2 linked regions of the Homo sapiens genome follow. The protein of the gene in region 1 interacts with the protein of each later gene in a biochemical or structural test. Each region holds a gene or a part of one and is shown on either strand. Other genes may lie near its edges.

Region 1 (7,338 bases):
TGAGACCCCACACTGCATAGGGATGGGACTGGCATGTTTCCAGCCTTGTGGGACTATCTGAGGGGGCTGCAGGCGGAAAGCAGACGGGATACCCGGGGAGTCTCTGCTGCTTTTTTGGCCCAGTACTTAGAAGCTGTTTAACAACTTCCAGTCTTGAATGTGAGACCTCCTGATAACAGGAGCCTTCTGAGCCAGAAGGCCAAGCTCTGGGTCAGAGTCCTGCTTACCCAGGGAGGAAAAGCCTGACCTTGCAAATCAAGAAAAATGCTCGTGCCACCACCTGCCCTCAGTGCCACAGCCACAAAGGGCTGCTGGTGCCACTCACCAGCTTCGGAGGCCTGCCCAAGGCTCCTGATCAGGCGGCCGTCTGGTCCAATCAGCATCTGCCCACGTGCAGCCCTCGGGGCCCCTGTAGGGCCAGGCTTTGGGGACTCTGGCAGGTGAACGACGGCACAGCCTTCATCCCACACGTGGTCCAGGTAGGCCTGGGCCCCGAGGAACAGGAGTCGCTTGGTCTTCTCTGGGGGAAGATAAATCATTCTCACGTCCTTCACTGTGTACCAACGAAGCCCCTGCATGGCCATTGAGTCTTTCTAGCCTCACATGAACCCCATCGTCCTCCTGTGTGCCCTCTGTCTCCCAGTAACCCCAGCCTGTGTTGTGCCCTGGCGAGCTGGGTCCTGCTCTGCCTCTATGCTGAGAATGCTTGTGCGTCCTTTCCTTACCTGGCTTAGCTGTCATCTCCTCCAGGAAGGCTCTGGCCCTGCAGCCCCACCTGTGTCTGATGCAAGGGTTCCCTCTCCTATCACTCGGCTCATTTTCTGCAATTCACGGCTGGCCTCGCCTCACTAAGCTTGTCCCCTTTCTCCCTTTTCTGCTTCCCCAGCACTCCCCACCTGGAAACCAGGCTCTGTGGAATGCACAGAGGGAGCTCTGCACTGTGGAGCACTAATTCACAAAACTCGTCCCCTGCCAAGGAAGCAGCCAGAGGCTTGGAGCTGGGCCTACAGCCTCTGGCCAGAGCACACCCCCTTCACCTGCTACAGAGTTGCTGGCAAGACAAGCATCCCAGAACCTTCCAGACCTCTTGTTCTAGAACACCCACCCATCCCTGGGAGCAGTGGTTTTCCATCAGGCCACAGTTCAGTCACCTGGGGAGCTTTGAAAAATCAGATGCCCAGGGCCAGACCCAGAAATGCTTTGTTTTTTGTTTTGCACCTCACCATAACACAGTAAAGGCAGAGATCCCAGAAACTCTATGTGGCTCTACATGAAGTGGGCAGCAATAATAGTGACAGGGTAACTCACATGGAGTAGCTGATGCCAGCCCACAACACCCTGCACCTTCCTCCTGGCCCCCCACACCTTCCCCCATCTATAAGGGGAAAGGAATGGGACAGACACGTGGTGAGGCTAATCCTTGTCCTCAAGGCCTTGTGGACAATTCGAGGTTAAGAGATCAGGGTAACAGCTGTGGCCTGGAATTTGGAAACTGTCACACAGTTCAAAGTAGGTGTCCTGCATTTACCATGGAAGGCCCACTGCACCCAGCAGACCTCCCTGACCTGACCCGGTGAGTGGCACACACCTGCCAACGCCCAGGTCAGGACACTCGGGAAGAATAAAGGGCCATACTGAGCCAGGCCCCATTTCCATCTTCCTCTTCTTGCCTGCACAGTGTTTGAATTTTTCAACTGTCCTGAGAGGGCACACGATTGCGGTCCTGCCACAGTTCCCACGGCATCATTCCCCTTACCTCCCCATGGCCCAGAATAGCACTCGCTTTCACAGCCCTAGCACACTGGAGACACCGCACAGAGGAACCTCGGGAGGCAGAGTCTTTCCCTCATTCCCAAGGCACAAGCGGCACCAGGTAAATCACACACCCCGGGTCATCCTCTAACTGCTCTACAGGTGCAGACTTTGTGTCCCAATCACTAGGCAAGGTAAGCTCCACTTTTTACCTGCCCCAGGGTATTAATCACCCCAGTCAGAGTGATGATCAATAAGATCAACACGCCTGAAATCCACAGGAGAAAGCCAGAGAAGGCCTGGGAGCTCACTGCCCTCACATCCCACCCAGAACTGGACACTGCAGCCACACGGAGTCCTATTTCGCTCTCCTGCTGCCTGGCTTCTGCCTCGCCCTCTTCCTTCCCTTCCTCTGCCTGGCTAACTCCTACTCGCCCCCACAGGATTCCGCTCAGACTGTTCTTCCAAGAAGCCTTCCGTGCCATCCCTGCAGGTGCGCCTGCACAAACCTGTGCCTGCCCCGACCACCTGTGGCGACTCCTCCTGCTGGTCTCCCCAACTAGGCTGGGGAGCTCCCGGGAGACGGGGCACATCTGTCTTGCCTGCCTTTGGTCTCCCGAGAAAGCCGCCGTGCCTGGCAGGGCCGCGCGCTCCATGAATACCTCTTGGGACAGGAGGGGCACTCTTCGGGTTGACTCCATGCAGGACGCCCCGCTCCCCAACCTCTCCCAGGACATCCTGCACGGGACAGTCCTGAGAAAGCACCAGGCGGGTGCCGCTCACTGCAGGGCGGCGACTAACCGGGATCGTGGAAGAGGGCGCGGGGGCTAGGGGCAGGGACCCTTTTCTTTCAGGCTGTTGGACAGGGTGGGCGAACGCTGGGGTCCTCACATCCCCCTCACTGACCCCAGCCCTGGGCGTGGCCAGCTTGTGTCCCCGCGGCCTCCCAGCTTCCGGGAACGCGGGGCCAGAAAGCAGGGCCCTCCAGCCCCCCGCTCAGGCCTCAGAGGGGACGCTGAGGCCCGGCCCGTTCCAGGCCCCGACGCAGCGGACCCTCGGCAGCCCGCCCGACACTCACCGAAGACCTCCTGCGAGTAGCGCTCGGCGCACACGCCGCGGCTCAACTCCCTCTGGCTCACGCGGACCTTGAGCTGTAGCGGGGCCACGTCCGCGAAGGGGCAGCTCCGCTTGGGCATGGCCGCGGGGCCGGGAGCTACGCAGCTCCCCGGCCGCCAGCCCCTTACCAACGACGCCGTGACGTCACAGCTGCGCGCCCATCCGCGGGCGAGAGCGGGTTTGAGGAGAGGGAGCGACGCGGCGCGTCATAGGCTGCGGGCGAAGTGGGAGGCGGGACTCCTGCGCGGAGCGGCGCGGGATAGGCCGAGGGAGAGATCGGGGGTGGGACTCGTGCGTCGGTGTACTGGACTCGACGCCGCGGGAAAGGCCAGGGGCCAGGTTGAGGATCAGGGTGGGCGGGTCCGTGGGAGAGATTTGTGCGCGCGCCGCTCAGGATAGGCGGGAGGAGAGACTAGGGGCGGGGTTCCTATGCGGCGCGAAGCGACGAAGGGTGGGAGCCAGGTCGCGGCATTCGGCTGCGCGGGAAGAGCCAGGGGGCGGGGGCGAGGCCGAGGGTCAGGACGGTGCAACGAGGGCGGAGCTTGTGCATCGGGGGCGGGCCTCGTTTGAGGATCGGCGTGGGATAGGCCAGGGCGACGTCGGGGCGGGTCTAGTTTGAGGAGCGGCGCGGGATAGGCCAGGGCAAAGTCTGGGGCGGCTGGGTCGGTGGCGGGATTCCTGTCAGCTTTTGTTTGGTTCCTAAACGGTAGACACTGGTTATAGTTCCTCATTTACTTCTCCGAAGTTAAGAGGCAGCCCGCTTCTTCCTAGCTCTTTTTTCCCCTTTAGAGACAGGGTCTCGCTCTGTCACCCAGACTGAGTGCAGTGGCAGTCTCGGCTCACTGTAGCTTGCGCCTCCCGGGCTCAGGCGATCCTCCCTTCTCGGCCTCCCCGGTAGCTGGGACCGCAGGCGCGCGCCTCCGCGCCCCGCTTTTTGGTTTTGGGTAGGAACGGGGGTTTTTCTGTGTTGCCTCAGCTGGCTTAGCTCCTCACTGTGGCGGTCTCCGCCTTCCAGAAGTAAAGGCGTGTGGGGGCTGCGCTCTGAGGGCCGCGTGCGGCTGCCGAGCGCCCCCGGGCGGGGGTATGCGCCGCTGTGTGGAAAATGTTCTTGCACAGCGGGTTCGTCTGACTTGGTGTCCCCATGCCGCGAGGTGCACCCGCGTCGTCCCTTCTCCGGGGTTCTGCTCACCAGAGGCGGCTCTCCCCTGCCCCGGCGGGTACAGAACCGACCCGTCCTGTGGCGTGGGCTTCGCCCTGTGAGAGATGACAGCGTGCTGGCAGCCCTCGCTCGCTCTCGGCGCCCACTCTGGCCGCGCTCGAGGGGCCCTTCAGCCCGCCGCTGCACTGTGGGAGCCCCTCTCTGGGCTGGCCGCGGCCGGAGCCGGCTCCCTCAGCTTGCAGGGAGGTGTGGAGGGAGAGGTGCGGGCGGGAACCCGGGCTGCACGTGGCGCTTGCGGGTCAGCGTGAGTTCCGGGTGGGCGTGGGCTCGGCGGGCCCCGCAATCGGAGCCACCGGCCCCAGGCAGTGAGGAGCTTAGCACCCGGGCCAGCAGCTGCGGAGGATGCGCCGGGTCCCCCACCAGTGCCGGCCCGCCGGCGCTGCGCTCGAATTCTCACCGGGCCTCAGCTGCCTCCCCGCGAGGCAGGGCTCAGGACCTGCAGCCCGCCATGCCTGAGTCTCCCCCCTGCCGTGGGCTCTTGCGCGGCCCCCTGCTCCGCGGCACCCGGTCCCATCGACCGCCCAAGGGCTGAGGAGTGCGGGCGCACGGCGCGGGACTGGCGGGCAGCTCCACCTGCAGCCCCGGTGTGGGATCCACTAGGTGAAGCCAGCTGGGCTCCTGAGTCTAGCGGCGACTTGGAGAACCTTTATGTCAAGCTAAGGGATTGTAAATACACCAATCAGCACTGTGTTTAGCTCAAGGTTTGTAAACTCACCAATCGGTACCCTGTGTCTAGCTCAAGGTTTGTAGATGCACCCATGGGCACTCTGTATCCAGCTAATCTGGTGGGGATTTGGAGAACCTTTATGTCTAGCTGTGGGATTGTGGACGCACCAGTCAGCACTCTGTGTTTAGCTCAAGGTTTGTAAATGTACCAATCAGCACTCTGTATCTAGCTAATCTGGTGGGGACTTGGAGAACCTTTATGTCTAGCTAAGGGACTGTAAATACACCAATCAGCACTCTGTGTCTAGCTCAAGGTTTGTAAAGACACCAATCAGCACCCTGTATCTAGCTCAAGGTTTGTAAATGCACCAATCAGTGCTCTGTGGGGACTTGGAGAACTTCTGTGTCTAGCTCAGGGATTGTAAACACACCAATCAGCGCCCTGTCAAGACGGACCAATCAGCTTTCTGTAAAACAGACCAGCCCTCTGTAAAATGGACCAATCAGCAGGATATGGGTGGGGCCAGATAAGGGAATAAAAGCAGGCCGCCCGAGCAGGCAGTGGGAACGTGTTGGTGTTCTGCCACATGTTTGGGGCTTTGCTCTTTCACTCTTTGGGTCCACACTTTTTATGAGCTGTAACACTCACTGGGAAGGTGTGTAGCTTCACTTCTGAGGCCAGCAAAGCCACAAACCCACCGGGAGGAATGAACAGCTCCAGACACACTGCCTTAAGAGCTGTAACACTCCTTGTGAAGGTCTGCAGCTCCACTCCTGAAGCCAGCAAGACCGTGAGTCTGCCAGAAGGAACAAACTCCAAACACGTCCAAACATCAGAAGGAACAAACTGCAGACATAACAATTTTAAGAACTGTAACAGTCAACTGTGAGGACCTAGTGCTTCATTCTTAAAGTCAGTGAGATCAAGAACCCACCAATTCTGGACACACCTGGACTATGTTCTCACGACTCCATCGGTGTTGCCTCCGGTGTGAAGAGGTGATGCCTGGAGTCCCGCAAACCCCTCCCACGTGACTCCCGTGTTGCAGCTGCCCACGCCCCCTCAGAGGCAGTGTATGCTTTCCTAGCCATGGGTGGCTGAAACCTTACCAGTCTCCAGCTTAGATGTCCTTTCTCCTCCTGCCGTGCAGGGTTCCCTGTGGTGGGGATGGGATCAAGCATTCTTGGCTCTTCCTTGCCACTTTGCTGGCATAATGGAGAATTTTTTCTGCCTTAGGGAAATGACTTGAAAGTTACTCAGTTGGAGTCACGTGTGACTAAACACAGATTTGGTTTATCCCAGAAATAGATGAAGTTCTCAGAGAGGAGGATTGTTTTCAATCTTATGGATCGTGGGGATTTCTAAAGATTTCCCTGTGTTCAGACTTGCAACTCTCCTAGGGTCTCATCACCATCGTGGACAGATACAGAACATCGGGCAGCTTATGGAGTGGGGCTGTCCCCCAGGCCACATGCCGGTTCCTCAGAGGTTGCTGGGTAGGATTCTGCTGCTTTAACAAACTTGCCTGGCTAACACCACTGGCTCACCCTTGAATGCCTTCCTGGGTGAAGCCATGAACCCTCCAGGGTTAAGCCCCAATTTTGGGGCTCACCTGCCCTGCATCAGATTGATGGTTAACTTGTAAAGAAACTGGCAGCTTTCCAGAGTGCTAGGAAAAAGGAAAATTATCATTAAACAAAATCATTGTCATAGTTTTCCTCTAATTCGTCTTGAGGTCTCTCCTGGAGAGTGGCTGTAAACTTTGGCCCTTCCCTGATGGGGCTCTGGGGGCGGTGGGCATGGGGTTACAGTGTGTGCTCTCGTGGGATGCCTCCTGACCCTGGCTGATGGCCTCAGGCCTGTGTATCCAGCTGTGCTGGCATTCCTCTCACCAGCAGCTTGCTTCTAGGCTTTGGCAGGCAGCCTGTGGCTTTTGTCTGAGCAGTGATCAGTTCATTCCTATCATGATGGTCTCTCTGGGAGAGTCCTGACCAGGAGAGTGAGGTTTGGGTGCAAGGGTCAGGTGAGAGCTGGAGGAGGCAGCACAGCAGAACACATGAAACTGCAGAGCAGGTGTGTGACTCAACCGGGCGGGAGCGAGGAGGCAGCGTTCCTCACAGGCCAGTGGGGAGGGGGAGCCACGGGGAACAGGCAGGCCCAGCCAGATGGTGGGGAGCGAGCCAGCGGCCTGTGCACCAAATCTGTATTCAGGTCCAGGGTGTTGTTACTCAAGTGCATTTCCTGTGGGGTGTGATTTCGAGCCGGCAGGCATCAGCTTCATGGCATCTTGCTGTGACTGGGTGGTGGTCACTGTGGCACGTCTGCACAGTCCGTGAGGGGTGTGGGGGCCAGGGGCTGAGTCCAGTAGGTTGTATCCAGGTGTCCCATAGGGAGCTGGTCACCAGCTGGCAGGTGTATAAAGCAGAGATCTGGGTGGACCACCCTGGGCAACTGGGAGGAGGTGAGGAGCTAGAAACTGTCAAGAATGACTGAGCCCTGCTTCTGTACCAGAAAGTCCCACTTTTATTCAGAATGGATGCCATTCTGAATAAATATTGTCATAAAATGATAAGAATTCACTACA
Region 2 (7,500 bases), on another chromosome or scaffold:
CTCATACTATGTGCCCAGCCACTATTCATTTAATACTAGGTACTATTATTATCACCACTTTACAAATGAAGAGTCCAAGACACAAAAAGTTAAATAACTTGTCCCAGGTCACAAAGCTCATAAGCAGCCAAGCAAGGTTTCAAATCCAGGAAAAATGGGTCCAGAGTTCATGCCCTTAACAAATACTCCAAAGTGATCTCTCTTCTTTCATCCTCTATCAAATCATAAAGTCCTTTAAGTTCCAAAGGGCAGGGACTCTGTTATGTTCACAGCAACATTCCCACAATCCAGTACATAACAGGTGCTCAAAAAAAACCCTTGTTTGTTGAATGAATGAAAGGACCCTTGAAATTACTCCTCCCATTTCCACTGCCACCACTCAAGGCCAGTCTTTCAGGTAAAGACTAGCCAATCAGGTAAATGGATATAAACTTCTCTGCCAGATTTTCCATAACCCAGTCCCATCCAGCCTATCAAAATTTTCTTTCTACTGCTTCTTAATTAGAATCATAAAATCTTAAAACCAGAAAGTATCTTAGAGATCATCCAGTCCAACCTCCTCACTTTACAGATAAAGAAACCCAAAGATGGTGACTAAAATCACCCAGGCAGGTGGAGCCAGAACCAGAACTTGACTCTTCCAATTTTTGCTCTATGATCTTTTTCTTCCAACTCATAATGATGCTTCATTCCTGACAGCTGTCTCCTCACTAGCCCATCAACAAATTATATCTATTCCCATGTTCCCGTTCAAGTTGTTTCTTCTACCCAAATTGTTCTCCCTCTCCATAGATCCAAATCCTCAAAATGTCTTCCTATTCCATTCTTCATGACTTCCTCTTTCTTGGAAAATCTTACATACCGAATAAGATAGTAAAGCAAGAGGATCACCATTGCCTACTAGGCCAAGTTTAATGCATAGTAACACTTCCCACAAAGTGAAGCTTACTTGGATGATTTCTTCCCTGTAAACTACTAATCCATTCTTCCATCCTGTGTTTTAGGAAGTGATTTTAATAAAGATTAGCTCATATATCACCTTCATAAAGTGTTCATATACCCGAAAGAGACACTCAAGCACATCTTCAATAGGAGACATGTGGCCAGGCGCAGTGCCTCACGCCTGTAATCCCAGCACTTTGGGAGGCTGTGGCGGGTGGATCATGAGGTCAGGCGTTCGAGACCAGCCTGGCCAACATAGAGAAACCCCACCCTACTAAAAACACAAAAAATTAGCCGGGTGTGGTGGCGGGCGCCTGTAATCCCAGCTACTCCGAGGCTGAGGCAGGAGAATCGCTTGAACCTGGGAGGCAGAGGTTGCAGTGAGCCAAGATCACGCCACTGCACTCCAGCCTGGGCGACAGAATGAGACTCCGTCTCCAAAAAAAAAAAAAAAAAAAAAAGAGTTTGGGCCAGGAACGGTGGTGGCTCACACCCGTAATCCCAGCACTTTGAGAGGCCAAGGCAGGCAGATTACCTGATGTCAGGAGTATATGACAAAATCCCACCACCACCAAAAATACAAAAATTAGCCGGGCGTGGTGGTGCACACCTGCAGTTCCAGCTACTCGGGAGGCTGAGGCAGGAGAATCACTTGAACCCGGGAGGCAGAGATTGCAGTGAGCCGACATCCCGCCATTGCACTCCATCATGGGGACCAAAGCGAGACTCTGTCTCAAAAAAAACAAAAACAAAAACAAAACAAAAAAACAAGACAAAAAAAGTTTGGAGACAACTATTCTAAAAATACATTGACAATGAGATCAAAATAATAGGTTTCAGACTACAGGGAGCATACATACATGTATGTATGTATATGGGCACACGCACACACTACAAAGGAAAACTTGTTCATATCCTGACTGACGTCCTAACCATGCCCACCAACCTCTAGCCCTTGCCAGCAATCTCAGAATTGTGTGTCCTACTCTGAAGCATAGTACAGAGGCTTTGGCAAAGCCTTTCATTTCTAGTAAAAACGAAATACAAAACAAAATAAACCACAAAAGCATGTCAAAAGTGATAAGATGATGCTAACTTCATCTTCCCTACAGAAAAGCATTTGACACTGTCCACAGTTCACTATCCTGACACTGCTCATCACCTAACGTAAACACATACCTTGTACTCCACAATCTCCTGAAATTCAGTTCCCATTTCCCAATCCCTTAGGATACAACCCATTTCCCCTTCACTAACGACGGGTTTATGCTCCCACCTCTGGGACTGAGCTAATACTGCCCTTCATCCTTCCCTCTCCTGAAGCTGCCATTCACTTTCTTTCTGCAGCCGCATAGTCCCGTCCCAGAGTAGAGGACAGACCATCCAGGGTCCCCAAACCCACTTCTCTTTCCTTCTCCGCCCCCGGGATCTGCCAGCCAGGCTAGAGACGCGAGGGGGGAGGGGTGTGACTCGCCTCCCAGGACTGGACCAGATGGCAGCGGATTCCGCCCCCACTCTCAGGCACCTTCCACCCTCCGACCCCTCGGGCAGCCCGTCCGCCACCCACCCCGCCCCGACCCCACCCCCGGCCTCCCCCACGCTCTCATGCCGGCTCCCAGACACACTCACCATGCTGGGTGAAGATATTGAAGCCGGTCTCTGTGGTGCGCCCCGCCGGGTCCCGCCTGCGGCCGGAGGGCCTGGCTGCACTGCTGCCCCGGATCCCGCGGGGCTGAGGCTGCTGGAGCCCCGGAGCTTCCCCGACGCGGCCCACCTGCTGCCCCATCCCTGCTCTCGCGTACTCCCGCGCCCCCGCCGACCCCTGGTCACATTCCTCCTCGGCTCCGGCCTCGGGCTCCTGGCGCTGCTCCGGTCTCTCCCTCCCAGCCCAGGCCCTGGCCCTGAGTGGCTGGGCCACCGGCGGCTCCGCACCCGGCCTCCTCACGGCAGCCGCCGCGCTGCCTCCAGGCGACTCACAGATTCTGCTTTTCCCTCCTCCTGTCGCGGCTCCGCGCCCCCAACGCCGCCGCCGCCGCCGCCGCCACCGCCGCCGCCATCTTTAAACCACCGAGCGCTGGGAAAGCGTGGGACAGAGCGTCTCCCGCCCCCCGCCCCCCGCCCCCCGCCCGCCAGTCACCTCCGCCGCGGGGAAGGAGGGCTTCCCGGCTGCCGCCCCGCCCTGCCGCGCCGCGCCCCCCGTCCCCGCCCCCGCCTCCTCGCAGGGTGGGTCCCCCAGTGCCCACCTCATTTGCCGGCCACCGCTGCTTGAGGTCTTTCGTCCTCCGCGTCCTGTCGCCGCACCTCGGCGTCCCCCCCCTCAATCCGCCTCAGCCGACCCCCTCCCGCGTTCGGCTCCACACGCTACCGCCTTTGGGGTTGGTCGGTCTCCGGCCTTCCCCATCCCACCTCCACCTGTCAAATGAGTGAGTCGAGGGCTCAGTGCCACCGCGTGCGCAGCTCAGGTGCAGGCACAGGTGGGGCAGAAAAGCACAAGGCATTTATTTGGTCCTTGCCATCCAGTTAAGGAGCTCTAAAATACCCAGGGGGATCTCTTTTAAACACCCTTGTCAGCAGCAGGCCTCCAGTAAAAATTAAAATGGTATAAAATTTACAAGAAGAGAGTAAAATGCTACCTTATTTGATTTTAATTTTTGGAGATTATTTCATGATGTTAAATCGCACTGGCCTGGATTGTGTGCCTTCTATAGTCTCATTGGGGACGCAATTGTAGCCCCATTCCTCATATTATATTACCATGAATTCCTCTTGAACTCCTTTACCATCTCACCATATGTGAGTTTCTGTTTCCTTACAATGCCTGACAGTAAAGTTAATCTTCCCACTGGCATCCTTTATACACTGTGCACGTGGTCAGGTCTTCTTTTGATGACAAAGGAGAAAAAATATATATCTTTGACCCTGTTTCTGAGTCAGAACTTACTCATTTTAGCTTATGCAGTCTAAAGAGAGTGAATGAGGCAGAAAAGAAGCGTTTTATACATACACATATACTATATACAATTGACTCGCCATCCCCCTCTCCCACTGTGTTTACTTGCATCTTAATTCAATTTTTTTTAATTCTCAAATCTTGATCATTCTCCTGTTATTCTTTTGGCTTCCCAATTTGCTTTATAAAAAGTATCAGTTAATGGAGGTACTACACTGAAATTTTGCTTAAATTAGACAGGACGGGAGCCACTGCAAAGAAGGAACAAAACAACCACTGGAAATGTAGGGTTGGGAGAAGAGGTGGATGAAGCTCTCCTTTGCATATCTTTCCTGAACCAGGTTGACCTTAGATGAACCATCCACTGACGTAGATATTGCCTGTTGTAAAAGCACTATGAAATTATTCCATTGCCATCTAGGGTGTAGCCAGAAATAACTGAAATTAACTCCAAAATGGGAACGGAAACACTATGTGTAAACACTGGATAAAATATGAACTTTCCATTTGGATTAAAGTTTCCCTGTGTTTAAAATACCTGTCTTTTCTTCTAATTCCCAGTGTTTGCAACTACTGAAAAAAATTCATTCGAAAGGGATAAAGATGTCACAGAGCCGGAATTTGGTTTACTGTTTGATTTTTATTATGGGAGAAAATTTTAATTTGGGGATAATGGTTTGGTTTCTCTGCTAATTCATGCATACTATATAAAGATAGATGAATATATGGGTTGAACATCTCAAATCTGAAAATCCAAAATGCTGCAAAATTCGAAATTTTTTGAGCACCAATATGATGCCAGAGGTGGAACATTTCACGTAAGTACTTAACATAAACTTTGTTTCATGCACAAAATTTTTAAAATATTGTATTAAATTGCATTCAAGCTATGTGTATAAAGGTGTATATGAAACATAAATGAATTTTGTGTTTAGACTTGGGTCGCATGCCCAAGATATCTCATTATGTGTGTGTAAATATTCCCAAATCTGAAACACTTGTGGTCCGAACATTTCTGATAAGGGCTGCTCAGCCTGCAGTAGAGTGCAGTGGCTAAGGGCAGGGGCTCTGAAGCCAGACTGCTTGGGTTCATAACTTGGCCCTGATACTTATGGACTATTTGATCTGGGCAAAGTACATAACCTTTTTGTGTCTCAGTACATTATCTGTAAACTGATGATGATAACAAATAGTATCTACCTTATAGGAATATTGTGAAAATTAAATTAGTCAATATATATGTATAGTACTTAAAACAGTATTTGGCATATAACTGGTGTCATATATGCATATACTATTAATACAAAAAACATAATGGTTTTAGGTTTTACAAGCCTAACTTTTTCAAATTTTATATATATATATATATATAAATTTGAGCAATGGCCAGAGGCCAGCATAAAAGATCAGACACATCACCAACAGCAGTAAGGCGTGCTGAAGACACAGATACTCTTCATCCTCATCATCCTTATCACAGGAGCAACACCACTCTCTCCAGAAGGAAGGAGCTTGTGAGTAATGCCTCACCAATCCCTGACTTCACCAGTCTGCATTTCTAGGCTATTGCCATACTTTTTACAGTTTTACAGTATCTCTCATATCTACCTCTTCCCTTCATCTATATAAACAGCGTTATGTAAGACACAGTGTTAGCTTAGGCATCTCTGCGCTGGTTTCTCCCGCTACTAGCCCTTTCTTCCTAGAGATTCCTCACCTTTAGCACCAAGCAACTCACTCAAAGAAACTGCTTCTCTCATTGCTTTGACCACACTCTCCCTCTCATTCATTACGTACAAAGTCTTAAGTCTAAAATTTTCACCTAATGGGCCGGGCACAGTGGCTCATGTTTGTAATCCCAGCACTTTGGGAGGCCAAGGTGGGCGGATCACTTGAGGTCAGGAGTTTAAGACCAGTCAGGCCAATATGGTGAAACCCCGTCTCTACTAAAAATGCAAAAACTAGCCAATCGTGGGGGCGCGTGCCTGTAATCCCAGCTACTGGGGAACCTGAGGCAGGCGAATTGCTTGAGCCCAGGAGGCGGAAGTTGCAGTGACAGGAGATTGCGCCACTGCACCCCAGCCTAGGTGACAGAGGGAGTCTCTGTCTCAAAAATAAATAAATAAATAAATAAATAAACAAAATAAACGTTTCACCTAGTGTTTCGAAGTTATTTTCCAGGATAACTGGATTATAATTGCCTAATGTTCTTCCATCTCCTGTTCCTCCAACCTCCACCTTTCCTATGGCAGGCATACATACTTTATCCAATTAGCCTATTTCTGAGATGTATCCCTTTTAGCTATGAGTTTTGCAATAATTATATTCTCCCTAATATAAGTCTCGAGTGACTCCCTTACAGGATTCTACTGTCCTCTTCAGTATTCTATTCAGATCCTGCCTCCTTGATAAGAGAACCTCAGACTTATTAATACAGACCTAACAGTTTCCTCGGACTCTATTCAGTACAGGCCTTAACCACAACTGGTAATAATTCTTTCGTTATAAAATTCGCTTACCTTCCTCTACATCCCTCAAATATGGTTTTTTGTTTTTTGTTTTTTGTTTTTGATATGGAGTCTCGCTCTGTCCCCCAGGCTGGAGTGCAGTGGCGCGATCTCGGCTCACTGCAAGCTCCGCCTCCCGGGTTCACACCATTCTCCTGCCTCAGCCTCCCGAGTAGCTGGGACTACAGGCGACCACCACTACACCCGGCTAATTTTTTGTTTTTTAGAAGAGATGGGATTTCACCGTGTTAGCCAGGATAGTCTCGATCTCCTGACCTTGTGATCCATCTGCCTTGGCCTCCCAAAGTGCTGGGATTACAGGCGTGAGCCACCGCACCCGGCTGTTTTGTTTTGACACATGACTCAAGTGTCATAGAGTTGGAAAGAAACTTAGAGGTCATGTAGGCTAATCTGGAATCCTCTCTGCAGTAATTCCAGTGAGGGTATCCATTTCTTTCAAAAGGTTCTAATTATTAAAACATACTTCCTGGGCCAGGCGCAGTGGCTCACGCCTGTAATCCCAGCACTTTGGGAGGCCAAAGTGGGCGGATCACAAGGTCAGGAGATCGAGACCATCCTGGCTAACATGGTGAAACCCCATCTCTACCAAAAATACAAAAAATTAGCCGGGCGTGGTGGCAGGCGCCTGTAATCCCAGCTACTCAGGAGGCTGATTCAGGAGAATGGCATGAACCCAGGAGGCGGAGCTTACAGTGAGCTGAGATCACACCATTGCACTCCAGCCTGGGTGACAGAGCCAGACTCAGTCTCAAAAAAAAAGTTCTTCCTAAAGATAAACTGAAAAATGTTCCCCTGAAACTTCCACCTGTTTCACCCCAGTTCTAATTCTACCATGTAGCTACACAGAACAAATATAATCTTTATTCTACATGAAATCTTTCACATATTTGAAAGCTATCATGTTTCCCCAAATCTTTTATTTTCTTGCATATATGCATGTTTATATAGTTATGTTTATCTATCTATATTTATCTACGTGGGCTGAAAATGTTTATGTAGATAAATTGAGAGAAAAAAATTTTGTTGTAATTTTACGTATAGCATTTTCCTTTTTCTTTTCTTTCTTTTTTTTTTTTTTGG

The links.
Region 2: the proteins of SIVA1 (region 1) and ABL2 form a complex in vitro, tested with the Homo sapiens proteins (one study listed by BioGRID).

The regions. Positions count from the first base shown.
Region 1 is NC_000014.9:104,748,812-104,756,149, reverse strand, and holds the start of SIVA1 (apoptosis regulatory protein Siva), read right to left. Parts: upstream 3,004-7,338; 5' UTR 2,949-3,003; coding exon 2,831-2,948; exon of another isoform or gene 1,679-2,830; intron 521-1,678; coding exon 326-520; intron 1-325. UniProt on the Homo sapiens protein: Induces CD27-mediated apoptosis. Inhibits BCL2L1 isoform Bcl-x(L) anti-apoptotic activity. Inhibits activation of NF-kappa-B and promotes T-cell receptor-mediated apoptosis.
Region 2 is NC_000001.11:179,226,670-179,234,169, forward strand, and holds the start of ABL2 (tyrosine-protein kinase ABL2), read right to left. Parts: upstream 3,009-7,500; 5' UTR 2,729-3,008; coding exon 2,572-2,728; intron 1-2,571. UniProt on the Homo sapiens protein: Non-receptor tyrosine-protein kinase that plays an ABL1-overlapping role in key processes linked to cell growth and survival such as cytoskeleton remodeling in response to extracellular stimuli, cell motility and adhesion and receptor endocytosis.